Linked DNA regions of Homo sapiens. The protein of the gene in region 1 purifies or fractionates together with the protein of each later gene. This does not show direct contact. Each region holds a gene or a part of one and is shown in the gene's direction. Other genes may lie near its edges.

What was found.
Region 2: the proteins of CNPPD1 (region 1) and OMA1 purify together in Homo sapiens (affinity purification with mass spectrometry; 2 studies listed by BioGRID and IntAct, with this or other methods). This does not show direct contact.
Region 3: the proteins of CNPPD1 (region 1) and PLS1 purify together in Homo sapiens (affinity purification with mass spectrometry; 2 studies listed by BioGRID and IntAct, with this or other methods). This does not show direct contact.

What each region holds. Positions count from the first base shown.
Region 1 is NC_000002.12:219,171,340-219,174,061, reverse strand, and holds the end of CNPPD1 (protein CNPPD1), read left to right. Parts: intron 1-594; coding exon 595-712; intron 713-933; coding exon 934-1,476; 3' UTR 1,477-2,165; downstream 2,166-2,722.
Region 2 is NC_000001.11:58,543,727-58,550,873, reverse strand, and holds the start of OMA1 (metalloendopeptidase OMA1, mitochondrial precursor), read left to right. Parts: upstream 1-4,147; 5' UTR 4,148-4,171; intron 4,172-7,147. UniProt on the Homo sapiens protein: Metalloprotease that is part of the quality control system in the inner membrane of mitochondria. Activated in response to various mitochondrial stress, leading to the proteolytic cleavage of target proteins, such as OPA1, UQCC3 and DELE1.
Region 3 is NC_000003.12:142,683,231-142,690,423, forward strand, and holds part of PLS1 (plastin-1), read left to right. Parts: intron 1-775; coding exon 776-941; intron 942-1,022; coding exon 1,023-1,165; intron 1,166-3,053; coding exon 3,054-3,146; intron 3,147-6,387; coding exon 6,388-6,583; intron 6,584-7,193. UniProt on the Homo sapiens protein: Actin-bundling protein. In the inner ear, it is required for stereocilia formation. Mediates liquid packing of actin filaments that is necessary for stereocilia to grow to their proper dimensions.

The sequences.
Region 1 (2,722 bases):
TAACTGGGGGAGGGAGGAGACAAGAAAGAGAATTGCCCAGATAGTGGTTCCCAGACCCATCTGTCCTCTTCTTCATCACCTTTGGGAAGGTGAGAAGCAGCTTATTTAAAATACATGTATTGGGTGGGTATGGTAGTTATGTCTATAATCCTAGCACTCTGGGAGGGTGAGGCTGGAGGATTACTTGGGTCCAGGAGTTCGAGACCAGCCTGGGCAATATAGCAAGATGCCTGACCCTACCAGAAAAAAATACTAGCCAGATGCAGTGGTGTACACCCATAATCCCAGCTACTCAGGAGGCTGAGACAAGAGGATCATTTGAGTCCAGGATGTTGAGTCTGCAGTGAGCTATGATTGCACTACTGCACTCCAGCCTGGGAGACAGCAAGATCCTGTCTTAACAAAATAAATAAATAAAAATAAATAAAATATAGGTCTTGGTCTCACCCTTAGTTTCTAGATCAGCAGATAGCCTAGGAATCTGGGTTTAACAGGCTTCCCAGTGTTTCCTGGTGGGTCCTGAGTGGTATGAGGGTGCCACTGGGCTGGCTGCAGGACAGTTGCATACTCTTGTCATTTCTCCACTTCCCCCAGTGTGGCTGAGCAGCAGGGACGGTGGCGAGGCTGGTACACCTACACAGACCTGTGTGTGCTGCTGGAGCAGCCGACCTGGCAGTTGGCCCTGGGCTCCCTCTGCCAGCGGCTGGTAAAGGTGAGGAGGGGCTCGGAAGGATAGGGAGCTTGAGCAGGCCGGTGTGTAGGGTGGGATGGTGTGAAGTGATTGCTGAAAAGCCCAGGAGATGGGGTTGGGAATAGATGGGCAGAGTGGGGTGTAAATGGCTATAGAGACCTCCAACTGGAACACAGATTTCTAGAGACAAGGGGTGAATGTGTTAAAGACAGATTCCTTCTTTCTTATCTCCTCTCCTGCAGCTGTCTTGCCTGTTAGCTGTGGCATATGTGAGCAGTGTGGCCCTGGCTGTGGCATCGGTGGCCGTAATACATCAGTCTTTGGGGCTGTCCTGCATCCCTACACCTGGGCCGCCTGACCTTGGACTGACCTCCCGTTGCCTCCTGGAGCCCTGCATACCTTCTGTGCCACAATGCCTGCCGTCTCTCGCTAATGTCTCCAGCTGCCTGGAAGGCAGCATGGGGCTGCGGTCACTCTGGGGCAGTCTTCTGGCCTCACTGACTCCTCCACCATTGCCTCCCCCAGACCCCCCTGCCCCTCCCACTCTTCTTCATAACTGCCACCTTTGCCAGAAGCTCCAGAGAGACTCCCCAACCTGCCATGCCTGCCTCCACCCCAACCGTACAGTCCCCACTGCGCTGTCCAGCCCCTGGTACCATACCTATGGCCTGGCTCCCCCCTGGCCTTGGAGCCCGGTGCTCCTTTCACTTCCTCAGCCTCAGCAATGTTCCCTTTTCAGTGTCATGGAGCTGGCTCGCCTCAAGTCTTTCGTTTTCCCAGGCTAGGTAGGGCTGTGAGGAATGCATTAAGAGGGTTTGGGAGTTTCTGAGAACCTGGAGGAGCAAAGCTTGATTCAGATCCTGTCTGCCTCGCTGGGTCCTTGGCAGGTCCCCTGTCCTCCTGGGTGGGAGCTTATGGGGTGGTGGGGCAGAAGGACTGAAGGTAATTCACTCCTAGATCGCAGTGGCTGGCTGCTTGGCCAGGACAGTGATGCCGCCAGGGAGAGCTTCCGCTTGGTGACCAGGGACATGTCCCAGATGGACATAGAAGCCCCTCTCTGCCTCCCTGGGATTTTTTAGACTTTTACTTTTGATTTCCCTAGGATGGAAGAGTATAGGTGGGAGATAAGGGAAGTGGGGTGAGAGGAGAAAGGAAATGTTGGCATGGGCCTGTGTGATGTCCCTGAGGCAGAAGAGCCGGGGACTGATGGGTTCAGGTGGGAGCTGCTGGGTGAGGCAGGGAACCCTTTTCACTCCCATTCCTTAGCTTTAGTCTAATGGAGCCAAGGACTGCTGGGACCTTCAACCCTGATCTTTTGTCTTCCAGTCTTCTCTTAGTGTCCTGCTCCTAGGTTTCCCTCTCTTCTGGTTCTTCTCCCAGGTATTCTCTTCCCAGGCCTCTCTGGCCACTGCTTTGTATCAGGGTTTTTCACGCTTTTGTAGAACTGAGGTTTCAATAAACAGTTTCAGTTGCATGGCCTGGACTTTTCCTTCTGCGGCAGCCCTTGAAGATTTTTCCTCCCTGTATCTGCCTTCCAAGCCTCCCTGCTTCCTGATCCTGTCATCTCACAAACTGTTTTCTCAGCCTCATCTCAGGACTTTCCTATCGTTTGATAGGCATAGGCTTCCATTTCCAACTTTGTTCCTGCTCCCAGGACCCTGGGCCCTAGCACTGCTCAACTTGGGATGCCATGGGACACACATGGTGACTGTCCTGTCCCTGAGTTGGCCTTGTCTGTCACTTGTTCTGGGTAAGCACTCTCCTTGTGGATCCCAAAGCACATCTCGTGGAGAGGGGCCAGGCCTTGTAACCAGCAGAGCCTTGTGAGCTCCTGAGGGCAAGCCACGAGGACGCTTCTCTCTCCTGACCTCCTCACTGGTCTGACACATGGTGATGGTCACATGGTGCTTAACAATTCCAAGAACTTGAAGAACTCCAAGGCTGGGTCATCACTGGAGGAAGGAAAACAGTCTGGGCAGCTTGGCTGAGGGTATTTGGGACTGCTGAGGATACTTCACGGAAGAAGTGGTT
Region 2 (7,147 bases), on another chromosome or scaffold:
TAAGCAGGCAATTTTGGCCTAAGGACTCCTCATTTTCAAAACCTTCTTAGAACTGTGCTACTACCTGAGGTGCTTCTAATCCAGTCTTTCTTCTTTCCCTCTCTCCTTTAACCAGTGTCATGATCTGAGGGCCCTTCCTGTCTATTCCTGCTCCTGCTCCATTATCCTTCCCAGGATTTTCCACGCAGTAAATATGTCTTGCACATCTGATTCCACCCTGGCATCTGCTTTTTAGAGGGCCTGTTGATACAGGTGGACTAGAAGTGGGGTGATCTGAGAAGAAGATGGTAAGATCGGCTCTGAGAGTGGCTCATTAATTGCCCAACTGGCTACAAGAACTCCATCTTGAGTGGAATGTGGGGTCTTGGATAGTGTCTGGCACAAGATAGTGGCCCCCGTGTGGATTTCAGTGATGGCGACCTGGGAAACTGGCCCAGTGGAGGGCAATGCCATTTAGGTGAGATAGTTAATGCACTTGAAAGATGGAGGGAGCAGTGTCTGAAAGAACAGTGCAGTGGGCTGGTTATTGCTACATTGTGTTGATGCCCTGCATGGGATAATGAGAAAGTGAGGGTCATTTGTAAACAGTTAAGGCTGAGTGGGAGTCAGAGGTCTCCTTGGTAGGTAACAGACAGGCTCTTATCACCTGCAGTGGAGGAGTGTGGACAGCAGAGGAGCAAAAGAGATTTTCATGAAAAGAGTTGTAGAGCCCCAGAGATGTTTAAACGCTTAGCCAAGGCAGGTCTGGGCCCTGGTTGGGAAAATCTGGAATCTTGAAGCATGAAATGGGACATCCTGATAGAATCCCTGAGGATACTGACTGCAGATCCTCAGAGCTTGCAGAGGTGGCTGACCCTTCCCTAGTCAAAGCTAACACTTCCCTTAAGTGGGAAGGCAGTGTTGAAGCCTCTAGCGTAAGGAATAAATAGGTGCCCACTCAGGACCTGCCCCATCTCCTCTTAGATATCTGCCAGGGTGATAACTCAGGTTAAATTCCAGCATCACCCAGCTGCCTGTGTGTTGGGCCTGTAAAGGTGTGGGGAGGAAGACTGCATAATGTAGGAGCTAAAGGAACTACCTAGCGTGTACCAGCAGGAGCCAGGAGAGGACCCCTGGAATGGGATTTCTGAAGGTGCTTGATCAAAGTGGGCAGGAACTGTGGCGGGATTGATAAGGAATCAGAGATACCAAGAGGTTGAGGAGGATTTATTATTTAGGTGCACCGGCCCAGTCGGATTAACATCCAAAGGACTGAGCCCCGAACAAAGAGTCAAGTTACCTTTTAAGCATTTTATGGGGTTGGGGGAGATCTGTGCAGGGAGAAGCATGTTACAGAAGCAAGAAACAAAGACAGTTATTTAATTAATTGAGGCATGCATTACATCATTTCTTACTTTTCAAGGAAAAACGTGTCTTAATGGCTTGAGTTTATCTGTCTAGTGACCTTGCAGCGCACAGCTAAAGAAACAGGGTCTTTACAATGCCTGGGAAAGGGAGAGATAAGGCTCACTAGCCACAGAAAAACAGGCAGTTAATATTTAAAGGACTCCAGCTCTTTCTCTTTCTCGGGGGGAGGTGGGTTTTCTTACATAGAACTGAGTTTCTGTTTACACATTCTTTAATTTCTTTTAATTCCTATTCCAGAACAAGCCTGGCTAAATAAAAATTCATTGTCTTGGGGGCACTTTCTTGGGACTTGGGACTGTAGAAGATGGGTAAACTCACTGCTAGGTGACTATTAGAAGCTGAGAGAAAGCCATAGTGCATGCAGAGTAAAGCAGGAATGCCCGAATTGCCCTTGCAAATGGTAGAAGGACAGAGGAGCTGAGGGAAGTGGACTTGCCTGAAAGAATTTTTTTTGTGTGTAGAGCCCGAAGGCAGACAGAGGGGAATGTTCCATGGGAGGCCCAGAGGATGCATCATATTCTATGGCCATGGGGAATGCACTGGCGTGAGGGGCACTAGCATCACTAAGAAGTTCAGAGAAGGCTCTCCTCTGGAGGGAAGGGCTGACGGTAGGAGAGGCAATCACAGGGCTGGGCTTGATAATATCCATTGGGATAACAGGATCCTGAAGTAGTAGAAGCCAGGTGGTGGCTTTAACCATGAGGACACCAGAAGATGTAATTACTGTAACATCTGCCAAGGGCAGAGGAGCAGCCAAGGGGGCTTGATCCACAGGAGGTTGTGGAGGGCTTTAATAGCATAAGGTCTCCCTAGGGGAAAAACAGACGGGCAGCCAACAAGAGTGTTGCCTAACATCTACAACTGGAGGAAGACAAGAAGCTATTTATCCTATGCAGGGAGTAGTTGCTTAATAAAAGGCACTGCTCATTGCTCAAGTCTCAGACCTGAGCCTATCTTCACACTGAGACCACAGAATCTGTTGACTTAAGAGGTTGTTGGGTCCCTATAAAGAAGAATCCTGCAATACTGAAACAAATATTTACTGTAATTAATGATTACTCTTTGGTCTGTGTCCCACGGCCATTTTCTTGACTGATTTTATGTTGAGGAAAGAGGAATACCCAGACATTTCACAGGTGTTACCCAAAGTATGTAACACACATGGCTCCTCTCTAAGTGTGGGGGCTTATGGGGATCAGGTAATAAGCAGAGTCCTGGATAATGTCCAGCTTACAGTGGGTCCAGGAATACACTGACCCATCCAGTAGTCATTTTCTTAGTTCCTGAGTGCATAATTGGGAGTACATATTGGGCAGCTGGAGCAATCTCCACATTGGTAAGAAGCTCAGGGTCCTTGGTCTTGAGTTATCATGGTGGGGAAAGCCAATGGGAAGCCTCTGAAGCTGTCCTTCTTTCCAAGTGAAGATAATAAATCAAAACCGATATTTCATCTGAGGGGATAGTGAGATGATGGTGGAGATTAATGTCATAATTAAAGACCTGAAATATACAAGAGTGGTTGGTCATCCCTGCCATATCTCTACTTAACTTGCCAGTCTGGCCCCTTTGGAAATCAGGTGGACCCAGGATAATGACATAATGGCTCTGCGCAGTCCAAAAGGAGCTGGATCAACTGGAAATTCCAGAGAACATCACACCCATCTATTTCACCAATGACATTATGCTAACCAGGCAAGATGAGCAAGAGGTGGCTAGCATGCTGGAAACTTTGGTAAGACATGTGCACTCCAGAGTTTGGGAGATAAACCCTACGAAGACTGAAGGACCTCCTACTTCAGTTTTTAGGGGTCCAGTTGTCAGGGGTTTTCCAGGATATCCCTTTCAAAGTAAAAGGCAAATCATAAAATACACATAAGATAAACGAAACAGTAACTTACACATTTTCCAAAAGAGATACCTAAAATTGTTCATAGTGTTTATGTCCTTTGACATAGTGTTTATGTCCTTTGAGATGTTTTCATTGTGCACAGAGTGTAAACATAATAAACTAATATGAGACCTCACTACTCATCCATCACAATCCAGTGTTTATTTGTACTGGCTTATTTGTACACTTTTATTTATTTGTGTTTATTTGTACACTTTTTTTTAATCGCCTGTCTTTCCTCACTGTGATATAAAGTTCACGAAATTCAGGTCTGTCTTGTTCACTGCTACATCCTTGGCACTTAAAATGTAGTTGATGCTCAAGAAATATGTTTTGGTGAAATGAATGAAACATACTATACACATAATTTTGGAGCCAGCTACTTTAACCTCCAGACACTTAAGATTATACTTCATCTTTCTTAAAATGCGTCCCTCCAAAAATCATATGAAAGCACTGTTCCCATACTCCAAAGACTATTTCTATGAATGCAGATTCAGAACCAGGAAGCCTTCGTCTTTTGGCAGTCTTCGAGTCTCTTCCCTTTTGGCCGGTACTGCCGTAGAGACTACAACGGACACAGCCTTGCGTGGATCATTCTTTAGAGGACCCAACTCACCAAAGACGGGAGAAAGTTGTTCCTAGGCAAGCAGCCCAGCCCAGGGCCATGTCCCGCCTTAAGCCACACGGAGGCGCTAGAGCGCCACAGTCTCCGCGGGGCCCGGGGCAGCTGGGAGAACGACTCTGGGCGGCTGTATTGACTGCCGGGTGTGGGCGGAGCGAAGGGCGCCCCGGCCGGTATGGCGGGCAGGAAGTGCGGGTGCGCGCCTGCGCATAGGTCGGGTCTGCGGTGTCACCGCTTTCGCTTCTGCTTGAGTCAGTCCTCACGGTGACGCTTTTCCCCAGCTTTTCCGAGTAGGATCGTGCCCAGGGGAGGAGGCAGAGTGCGGCAGTGGGGAGGGGGCGGAGCGCAGAGCGCCTGCGGGGGCGCCCGGGCAAGGAGTGGGGATCCTTGGGGATGGGGGTACGGGAGGAGGCGTGGGTGGGCGATAAGGCTGCGTGGAGGGGAGGGGCGGGGGGCGCCGGGGCGGGAGACGGAGGGGATCTGTCCTGGGGGAGCCCGGTTCTCCCCTAGCCTTGCCCGGGGCACGCCGGTGACCCCGTGTGTCTGCCCCGTGGCAGTACTTTCGTGGGCCGCCTGCCCTCCCCCTCAGCCCGCCCTTATCCGCGGCTCCGCTTTCAGAGCAGGGTTTCTCACCCGCGGGGCTTCGGGCTCCTCACCCGGCACCTCTGCCAGAGGGGACCGCCTCCCGGCGCGTCGGGCATTCGTCTCTTTCACCCCTTCCCTCTTCAGGAGAAACTGAACACGTTTTCCAGCCTAAACTCGGCAGGGCAAACCAGAACATTCCCCGTCTAAGCAGTTCCGGGGAGTTTTAACAATTTCCTCGTAAACTCGTCTACAGAACTCACTGTATACTGTTTAAATGTCGCCTGTGTGTGGAGCAACAGTTTTATTGTGCCGTGCAATCCTCAACAAGAAATTGTAGTCCAGGGAGATGAAAATCCCTTATTTGGCATTCAGGCGTTGATCAAGGTCGTGCAACCCTCGCTAAAAGGATTTAGGTTCATCTCCGTCATTCTCAGCCGGGGTGAAGGGGTGTAGTCTGACATTTGGAAGCTTAAGAACCAAGTCTGCTGCCGTCCAATTCTTTTTTAAAGCCTTCCATCATGTGTGTACTTTGCTTGAATGATTATTTTAAAGTACATGTCCTATTTTTGCCAATCTGACAGCTGTTTCCATAGAAACTAGAGAAGAAATAGTCATTTTCAGCAAGAGTTGTTAAAACTGTCTTCCAGGCTTCAGCTGTGAGTGCCAGTGAGTGCTGCACTTGCTCATTCGGAGATGGTACTTAAAGAATTAAGGATCTGAAATGTTCGTAGAGGCTAACAATCCAAATTGTTTAATTTTCTCACATCATTAATTTTGTTATCCTAGAAGTCTGCCAGCTATGTTTGTTGACCTGCCACAGCTCTTTGAAGAGAATATGTCAGCCCTGATTTTTTTTTTTCTTATGTGCTCTGTAGTCTAGTGATTGGCTCCTTGAAAATGCATGAATAGATTTCTTCCCTCATTCTTTACCCTTTCTTCAGGATAAACCGGGTATTACAAAATATCAGGCACTGTTTCTATTCAAAACGACACTTGGTTGTCAGTGATAGAAATGATAATGGTTTTAATTATATATGCGTAGTGTTGGGGCTTTTGCTTATACCTTCTGTGTCAATAGGATTCTTTTAAAATTTTTACACAAGTCATGAGAAATGAGAAGGAGTTTGCTTGTCATGTGCAGAGCTAAGCAGTGTGAATAGATGTGCATAGACATAGAGATGAGAGCTTTCTTTTTCTGTGGGGTGTAAGTAAATCAGGGAGTTTGGAATTTAGGAATGGGTGAAGGAGGGTTGGGGAAGGTGCCTGGAGAAGTAGTAGGAGGGCCTGGTTCGCCATATGAAGGAGTTTGTGGAAGCCATGGAAAACCAACGAAAGTCCAGGCGTGGTGGCTCATGACTGTAATCCCAACACTTCGCAGTGCAGTATGATCAGTTGAGCCCAGGAGTTAAAAACCAGCCTGGGCAACATAGTGACACACCGTGTCTACAGAAAAAAATTAAAAAATTAGCTGGGCTGGCCAGGTGCGGTGGCTCAGGCCTATAATCCCAACACTTTGGGAGACCGAGGTGAGCAGATCACTTGAGGCCAGGAGTTCGAGACTAGCCTGGGCAATTTGCCGAAACCCCGTCTCTACTAAAAATACAAAAATTAGCCAGATGTGGTAATGCATGCTTGTAATCCCAGCTACTGAGGAGACTGAGGCACGAGAATTGCTTGAACCCAAGAGGCGAGGTTGCAGTGAGCCGAGGTGGCACCACTGCACTCCAGCCTGGACAACGACAAAGTGAGACCCTGTCTCGAAAAGAAAAGAAAAACAATGGGAATTACAGAAATAGTTGCCTGAGTGGAGGTTTAAAAAAGTAATAATACATCCCGTAGAAATTTGAACTGCACAGAAATATATAAGGTGAAAATACTAATAATCCCTCTTAACCACCATCCTGCCATTCAAAATAATTGTGAATAGTTTGGTGTATCTTTTTTCAGATTTATTTTTGTATATACTAGCATATTTTCTCATTACTATTTTTGCAAATTGGGGAGGGTTTTTTAAAATCTGTTTTGTTCTCTGCAGTATCTCTAGCATCCATTATGGTGCCTAGCATTTAGTGGGCACTCATTAAACATTTTCAGAATGAATGAATAATAATACAGTTCAGAGGTCAAAAATACAAAATCTGAATGTTTGGTTAAGGTCGTTAAAATTTTTTAAGTTCATTGCCAACATTTAAAAATTGATAAATTTCACCTAAAATCTGAAATTCTGGCTTTACTTAAAAGTTTTGAATCATTTGGCCACAGCAAGTTCAAATTCCATCATAACTGTTTGCACCTCCTTTAGATGGTCATGAATCTGCATTCACATCAGTATCACTTTGCTGATATTCACTTGCCTGGACCCTACAAACCTGTACTGTGCGATACAGTAGACACTAGCCACATATGGCCATTTAACTGAGTTAAAAATTTCATTCCTCAGATGCACCAGTCACATTTCAAATGCTCAGTAGCCACATGTAGGGGCTACCTTATTGGACAGTGCAGACATGAACATTTTTATCATTGTAGAAAGGTCTGTTGTATGGTGCTTCTTTAGACGTTTGAGTTTGCCACCTCTGTTATACAGAAGTTTTTAGGTAGCATTTATTATTATTTTTAAATTTGTATATCCCTTTGCCAGA
Region 3 (7,193 bases), on another chromosome or scaffold:
GCGGTGGCTCACGCCTGTAATCCCAGCACTTTGGGAGGCCGAGGCGGGCAGATTACGAGGTCAGGAGATCTAGACCATCCTGGCTAACATGGTGAAACGCCATCTCTACTAAAAACACGAAAAACTGGCCGGGCGTGGTGGCGGGTGCCTGTAGTCTCAGCTACTCAGGAGGCTGAGGCAGGAGAATGGCGTGAGCCCAGGAGGCGGAGCTTGCAGTGAGCCAAGATAGTGCCATTGCACTCCAGCTTGGGTGACAGAGTGAGACTCCGTCTCAAAAAAAATAAATAAAAAAGAGGATGGGCTCGGGAGACCGCTGGGATCAGACCCCGGCCTTTCCACTGTGGAAACTGTCAGTGCTGCAGTTTCCTCATCTGTAAAATCCATCTTAAGAGTTACTTTAAAATTATCTTAAAACCTAATTGTACATCATTTTTTAAAGAAGTGCTTCCAAATGAGCACTTTACAAAAATATCATGTTGAGTTTGAGGTATTGGCAGAACATCCAGGTAGACATAACCAAGTACATATATAGATACACAGCTTAGAGTGGAGACTCAGAGGAGGTCTGGGTGGAAATAGGGATTTGAAAGTCATTGGCATATAAAGTAACAGTTAAAACCATGTGTTTTTTTTTTTGAGTAGTGGTATTTTCGTTGTATAAATATTATGTTTATAAATCTGAAATTTGGCAGTCCATTGTTTCTTATAGATAATTTTTATAGATAAGACCTTAGAAAGGACTTCCTCATGTGTACTTTTTTTTTTGGCAATTCAGGAAAATTTAAACCTAGCTCTGAATTCTGCCTCAGCCATTGGTTGTACAGTGGTCAACATTGGTGCATCAGATCTCAAAGAAGGAAAACCTCACTTGGTCTTGGGACTTCTCTGGCAGATCATCAAAGTTGGCCTTTTTGCTGATATTGAGATTTCCAGGAATGAAGGTAAGATCATTAGAAATATTTGCTGTTCATTGACATGTACTTGCTATGGGAAGAATTTACATTTCGCTGTTTTGCCCTCAGCTCTGATTGCATTGTTAAATGAAGGTGAGGAACTAGAGGAGCTGATGAAGCTTTCTCCCGAGGAATTACTGCTGCGATGGGTGAACTACCATCTGACCAATGCAGGATGGCATACCATCAGCAACTTCAGCCAAGACATTAAGGTTTATATTTAAATGTTCAAATTTGTGACATGAAATAAGGATGTGCAGTGTAAAAATAAAAGGGGTTCAGACTTAAATTTGAATTAAATTCACAAGAACACTTGGGATAGAAAATGAAAATTTGCATTACTGTGTGAAGTAGATCCCCCAATTATATTCACAAAATATATATTTTCTAAAAACCAGATATATTGGCTTTTAATAAGAACTACAACTGACTGTGAGAGGAAAGAGGTGCTAGCCTCAACAGATTAAAACACACTTTCTCATTTTTTATGCCTGAGATCTGCTAGATTATAATGAGGATGTCAGTCTGTTCATTTGGACTAATAATTATATCTGTTTACTGGTTTAACACTCTTACTCCCACTTTGCCAATAACCAGCTAACAGGAAATCAGATTATCTGAGGGTACAGAGAATCAGTAAATAAAGGGGATCTTAAGGTATGTGCCTTAACCAGGGTAGCTTAAAACACTTCCCTCTCTACTGGGAGAATCTTGTCAAGGAAACTATAACAGGCATTTTTGTCTAATGACAACTTTCCCTTGGTTACTGCCTGGATGGGCATTGCCAAGCCGGGTCGCTGTGACTTTTTTCTTCTCTCTGTTTCTTTATGTCCTCCCCCATCCTGCCCCCCAAGAGTAATCAGTGCTGGCTCTAATTCATGTTCCGTCTTTAGCTATATAACCTTCAGTCAGGTTATCTTTTTCCATAATGGCCTACAGGACAGTCTCTCAATTTGAAGTGACATTTTATTTCTCTGCTTTCATCTACTATACACTGTTATATTTGAAAGTTTATTTGGGAGATTTCTCTTATTCTGAAATCTCTGAAAATTCAGCTAATCAAACATTTATTCAGCTCTTTCTGAGGGGCATTATGCCCAGGCGATGCAAAGACTCAGCTCTTGAGAAGCTTGCCAATTCTACTCAGAGACAAACATGTACCAGAGGGATATTTCAGTTATCTATTGCTATATAGCAAATTATGCAAAATTTGCTTAAATAATGATTATTTCTCATCATTTTGTGGGTTGATGCATCTTGGCTGGGTGGTTCTTCTGCTTCACATGGTTTTGGCTGGGATTACTAACTCGATTACATTCAGCTGTCAGTTGGGCTCATCTGGAAAGTACACAAAGGCCTCAGTCACATGTCTGGTGCCTCAGTGCTCCTCCACAAGGCCTCTCTACATGGTGAGCTCAGGCTTCCTCACAGCATGATAGTCTCAGATAGTTGGACTTCTTATGTAGAGGTTAACTTTAAGAGAGAGGAAGCAGAAGCTCTTAAGATTTGGGCGTGGAAGCCCCAGAACATCACTTTCACAGCATTCTCTTAGTTAACGTGAATCATAAGGCCTGTCCAAATTAAAGAGGACAGGAAATAGCTTCTGCCTTTTGGTGGGAAGAGTTAATGTATGCATGGGGAAGAACTATATATCCATCTTTGGAGACAATGACATTAGATGATTTAATAGTGTGATCACTGTTTACTTATTAAGATAGGCAAGGGGTGCTGTGCACTACAGAAGAGGGGTTCTTAGTTCATCCTAGAGAATCCAGGGAAGGCATACGGGAGATAATACTTGACCTGAATCTTAACTGATGTTGATGCTTGGGTGTGTAAACAGATGGAAAAGTAAGGGAGGGTATCCAGGTGCAGGAAACAGCATTGCTATAAACTCTGAGGTGTGAAACAGGATTGCTTTGAAGCTCTGAAGTGTGAAACAGCATGGTACATTCAGGAACCTACAAGTAATTCTTTATTTTTAAAGTTATTCCATTCTTTGAGATAGAGGCAATTTCTTCAGTTTGAGCACTTGTTTTCCCTAAATTCAATGATGATTTTATTCGTTTTAAAAATGCTATTTCATATCTTTCCTTGAAGGACTCGAGAGCCTATTTTCATCTGCTTAATCAGATTGCCCCTAAAGGTGGGGAAGATGGACCTGCCATTGCCATTGACCTTTCAGGAATTAATGTGAGTGCAATTTTTAACTTTTAAAATATATTGTGGTAAAACAGACGTAGAAAATTTACCATTTTTATCATTTTCAGTGTTCAGTTCAGTGGCATTCAGTACATTTGCATTGTTGTGCAGCTATCACCATTATCCATCTCTACAAACTTTTCATCATCCTGTAGGGAAATTCTGTACTCATTAAACAATAACTCCCCATTTTCCCCTTCCCCCAGGCCCTGGTAACTACTGTTCTACTTTTTGACTATGAATTTGAATTTCAGTAGCAGGTACAGTCAAATTTAGAGTACAGTTCTCTACAAGCAGCATTCCCCAGTAGAGCCCTCAGCCCTCCATTAAAGTTTGGTGCTTTGCTCTATGGAAGTTTTTTCCATGCCCAAGGCTCCAAGCCTCCATGTCAAGCCAACTGGCTATCATGACGGAAGAAAGGGAACTGCGTAATTGTGACCTGGAGTATTTGTGGAATCAATCCTACATTCATGTTTCCCTGGTGCAAGGCAATTGGAACTCACCAGGGTGCTCTTTTGACTGTCAGCATATGCCAGGAAAGGAAGCAACAACCTGTTGTTAGATTTTTAAGCAATCAATTATCAGTTTTACCAGCTTATATTTAGAAATCTACAAAATAAAAATAGATATTCATGGTGTAGGAAGGACTGATACAGATTCTGACCTACCAAGCATACTTCCTAGGAATCTCATTCTTTTAGCATAAGTTATAAATACCAGGGATGGTTCTATCTAAATCAGGATGTCCAGTCTTTTGGCTTCCCTGGGCCACATTAGAAGAAGAATTGTCTTGGGCCACACATAAAATACACTAACACTAACAATAGCTGATGAGCTAAAAAAAAAAAAAAGGTGCAAAAAAATCTAGTGTTTTAAGAAAGTTTACAAATTTGTGTTGGGCCACATTCAAAGCTGTCCTGGGCCGCATGTGACCCACCGGCCGTGGGTTGGACAAACTTGAATTCTAAACATTAAAATTTGGTCAGATAATAGACTGTATGAAAATATATCACGTACTTAAAGTGCGGCGTCCGTAACATTTGGTTTTAAAGGCAACTTGAGTCATTACTAATTAATTATATCTCACATTATTATAATGACATATTTCAGAAACACAGTATTGCAACGCTCTGTAAAATGTGCAAATCATTTTAAGTAAAAAAATTAGGAACTTAAACTTATGGAAAATTTTGAATATATTCAAGAGAACAGACTTAGTATACTAAACTATCAGGTACTCATCCCTCAGTTTCAACATCTGCCAATTCATGGTCAATCTTATCTCGTTTATTCCCTATTTCTCTCCTCTCCTATATTATTTTGAAGCAAATCCTAGACATTACTTCATGGATAAATATTTCAATATATATTTCTAAAAGACAAAGACACTTTTAAAATAAAACCACAATACCTTATCATACCTTAAAAAAATTACAACAATCTGTAACATCATCAAAATATCTAGTCAATGTTGACATTTCCACTTGCCTCATAAATGCCATTTTTTTCATAGTTTATTTGAATTAGGATCTAAAATAAGGTCCACATGTTGTCTTTATTTGTTTGTTTTTTTTTTTTTTTAGATGGAGTCTTGCTCTGTCGCCCAGGCTGGAGTGCAGTGACACAATCTTGGCTCATGGCAACCTCCGCCTCCTGGGCTCAAGTGATTCTCCTACCTCCACTTCCTGAGTAGCTGGGATTACAGGTGCACACCACCACACCTGGTTAATTTTTGTGTTTTTAGTAGAGACGGGGTTTCACCATGTTGGCTAGGCTGGTATCAAACTCCTGACCTCAAGTGATCCGCCTGCCTCTGCCTCCCAAAGTGCTGGGATTACAGGCATGAGCCACCACGTCCAGCCACATATTGTCATTTTTTGATGTCTACAATGGTAACTTTTCTTTGTTAATTTAATAATCTGTTGCTTTCTCTGATTTCATTTATATGATTAATTATTTTGCAACTCTGGTGCACAGAATTAGGTAGGTTATCTTTGGTCATGATATACTCATATGGGTCTGTGCATACCCATTTTTAAATTTATTTTTGTGTGTGGTTGTTTGTTTTGAAATTGTAACAAGCCTCATGAACTCTCAATCTAACAGGAAAACTAAAACTTTGACGTGACATTTTCTGTACAGTTCTTCCCTATCCCACCTCGGTTTTCGCCCAGTGTGGTAACCACAGTCTTGAATCTTGTGTTCATTGTTGTTCTGCTTTTCTTTTTATGTAGTTTCCCTTCATCCAAATGTATCCCTTACAAAATTAAATTCTTCATTTTACTTTTTAACTTCCTTTAAAGTTTATCATGTTATACTTAAATTTCTAGTACTTCTTTTTGGCCTTGTATCTCTAAGAGTTACCCATATTGGATGTCATTGTGTGAATATACAAATTCATTCATCTACTCTCCTGTTTATAGGTATTTGGGTTGTTTCATTTGTTTCCAGGGTTTTGCAATTGTGAAAGGTGCTTTTCCCTATGATTTTAATTTTTAAAATATGTATTTCAACTTGTTTTTCATCAAGAAGAGCCTTCTGGAAATGTCACTCAGTGTACAGTGGGTATGATAACTATGCCTGTTATCCAGAGGGCACTCTACTAGCTGGTCTTGAATAAGTTATCTATAGTGCAACCAGTAGGAGCTTACTGATACAATATTTGAGGATTTTGCTGAGTATTTTAGCAAAAAGGGTAAAATATAACTCAGTTATCCCAGCAAGGAAATTCAGAGACTTTTTTCCTTTTAACTTAAAAGGCACGGGGGCTGGGCTTAGTGGCTCACGGCTATAATCCCAGCACTTTGGGAGGCCGAGGTGGGCGGATCAGGAGTTCGAAACCAGCCTGGCCAACATGGCAAAACCCTGTCTTTACTAAAAATACAAAAATTAGCTGGGCATAGTGGCATGTGTCTGTAATCCCAGCTACTCAGGGGCTGAGGGAGGAGAATCACTTGAACCTAAGAGGCAGAGGTTGCAGTGAGCCAAGATCACGCCACTGCACTCCAGCCTGGGGAACAGAGCAAGACTCTGTCTCTAAATACATAAATAAATAAATAAATAAATAAATAAAGGAATGGGTAAGTTGACTTGGAATTACTACACATTTTGATCTTATTTTGAGTTATTATTTGATATATTTGTGGAAAAGTAATTGCTTATAAACATGTATACCAATAAAAATTATGCCAATTAAAACTTCAATTGTAACCATTTTTGTTTTATTGTTTAGGAGACAAATGACCTGAAGCGTGCTGGACTCATGCTTCAAGAAGCAGATAAACTGGGCTGCAAACAGTTTGTTACTCCTGCAGATGTGGTTTCAGGCAATCCTAAACTTAATTTAGCTTTTGTAGCTAATTTGTTTAACACATACCCGTGCCTGCACAAGCCGAATAATAATGACATCGATATGAATTTACTGGAAGGTGCGTTCTTTCTGCCTTTAATTGACTTGCTATATTTATCTTCTTATGGTATTGTCTTACTTCACTGTCAGAGATAGGGGATTGTGGTGGGAAATGCAATTTAGTGTGTGTAGGTATGTGTATCTATTGAAAAATTAAAATTATGGAAGGTGGTTGCTGGTTTTGGTTAAAAGAGAATGCTGGGGTAAATCTTTTATTTCTCCATAAGAGGTTAGTGAAAACTATCATACATTTAAAATATTCTCATAAATGATCACATAACAGCTCTACCACCAACATGGACAATGAATTATCTATTAGAATAAAATAATTATTTGTAGGTGTTTTTCTCCTTTGAAAGGTCCAGTTTGACTCTAGTATTGTTCTCTTTTTAAGGTTTTTAGTGTACATGAAAAAAATTACAGTGTTCGTTATTTGTCTTTTGTGTGGTCTATCGTTATCTGTCTCATAATATATAATACTTTCCTGTTTTGCTTCATGAAATGCAGATTTGACCCCTCCTAATGTAGGTACTGTATTTAGTACTTTTCTATACTCTATAAATATATTCATTCTGAATGTTCTTTTTATTAGTACCATTTATTCTTTCCATCTGGGTTGATATTTTACT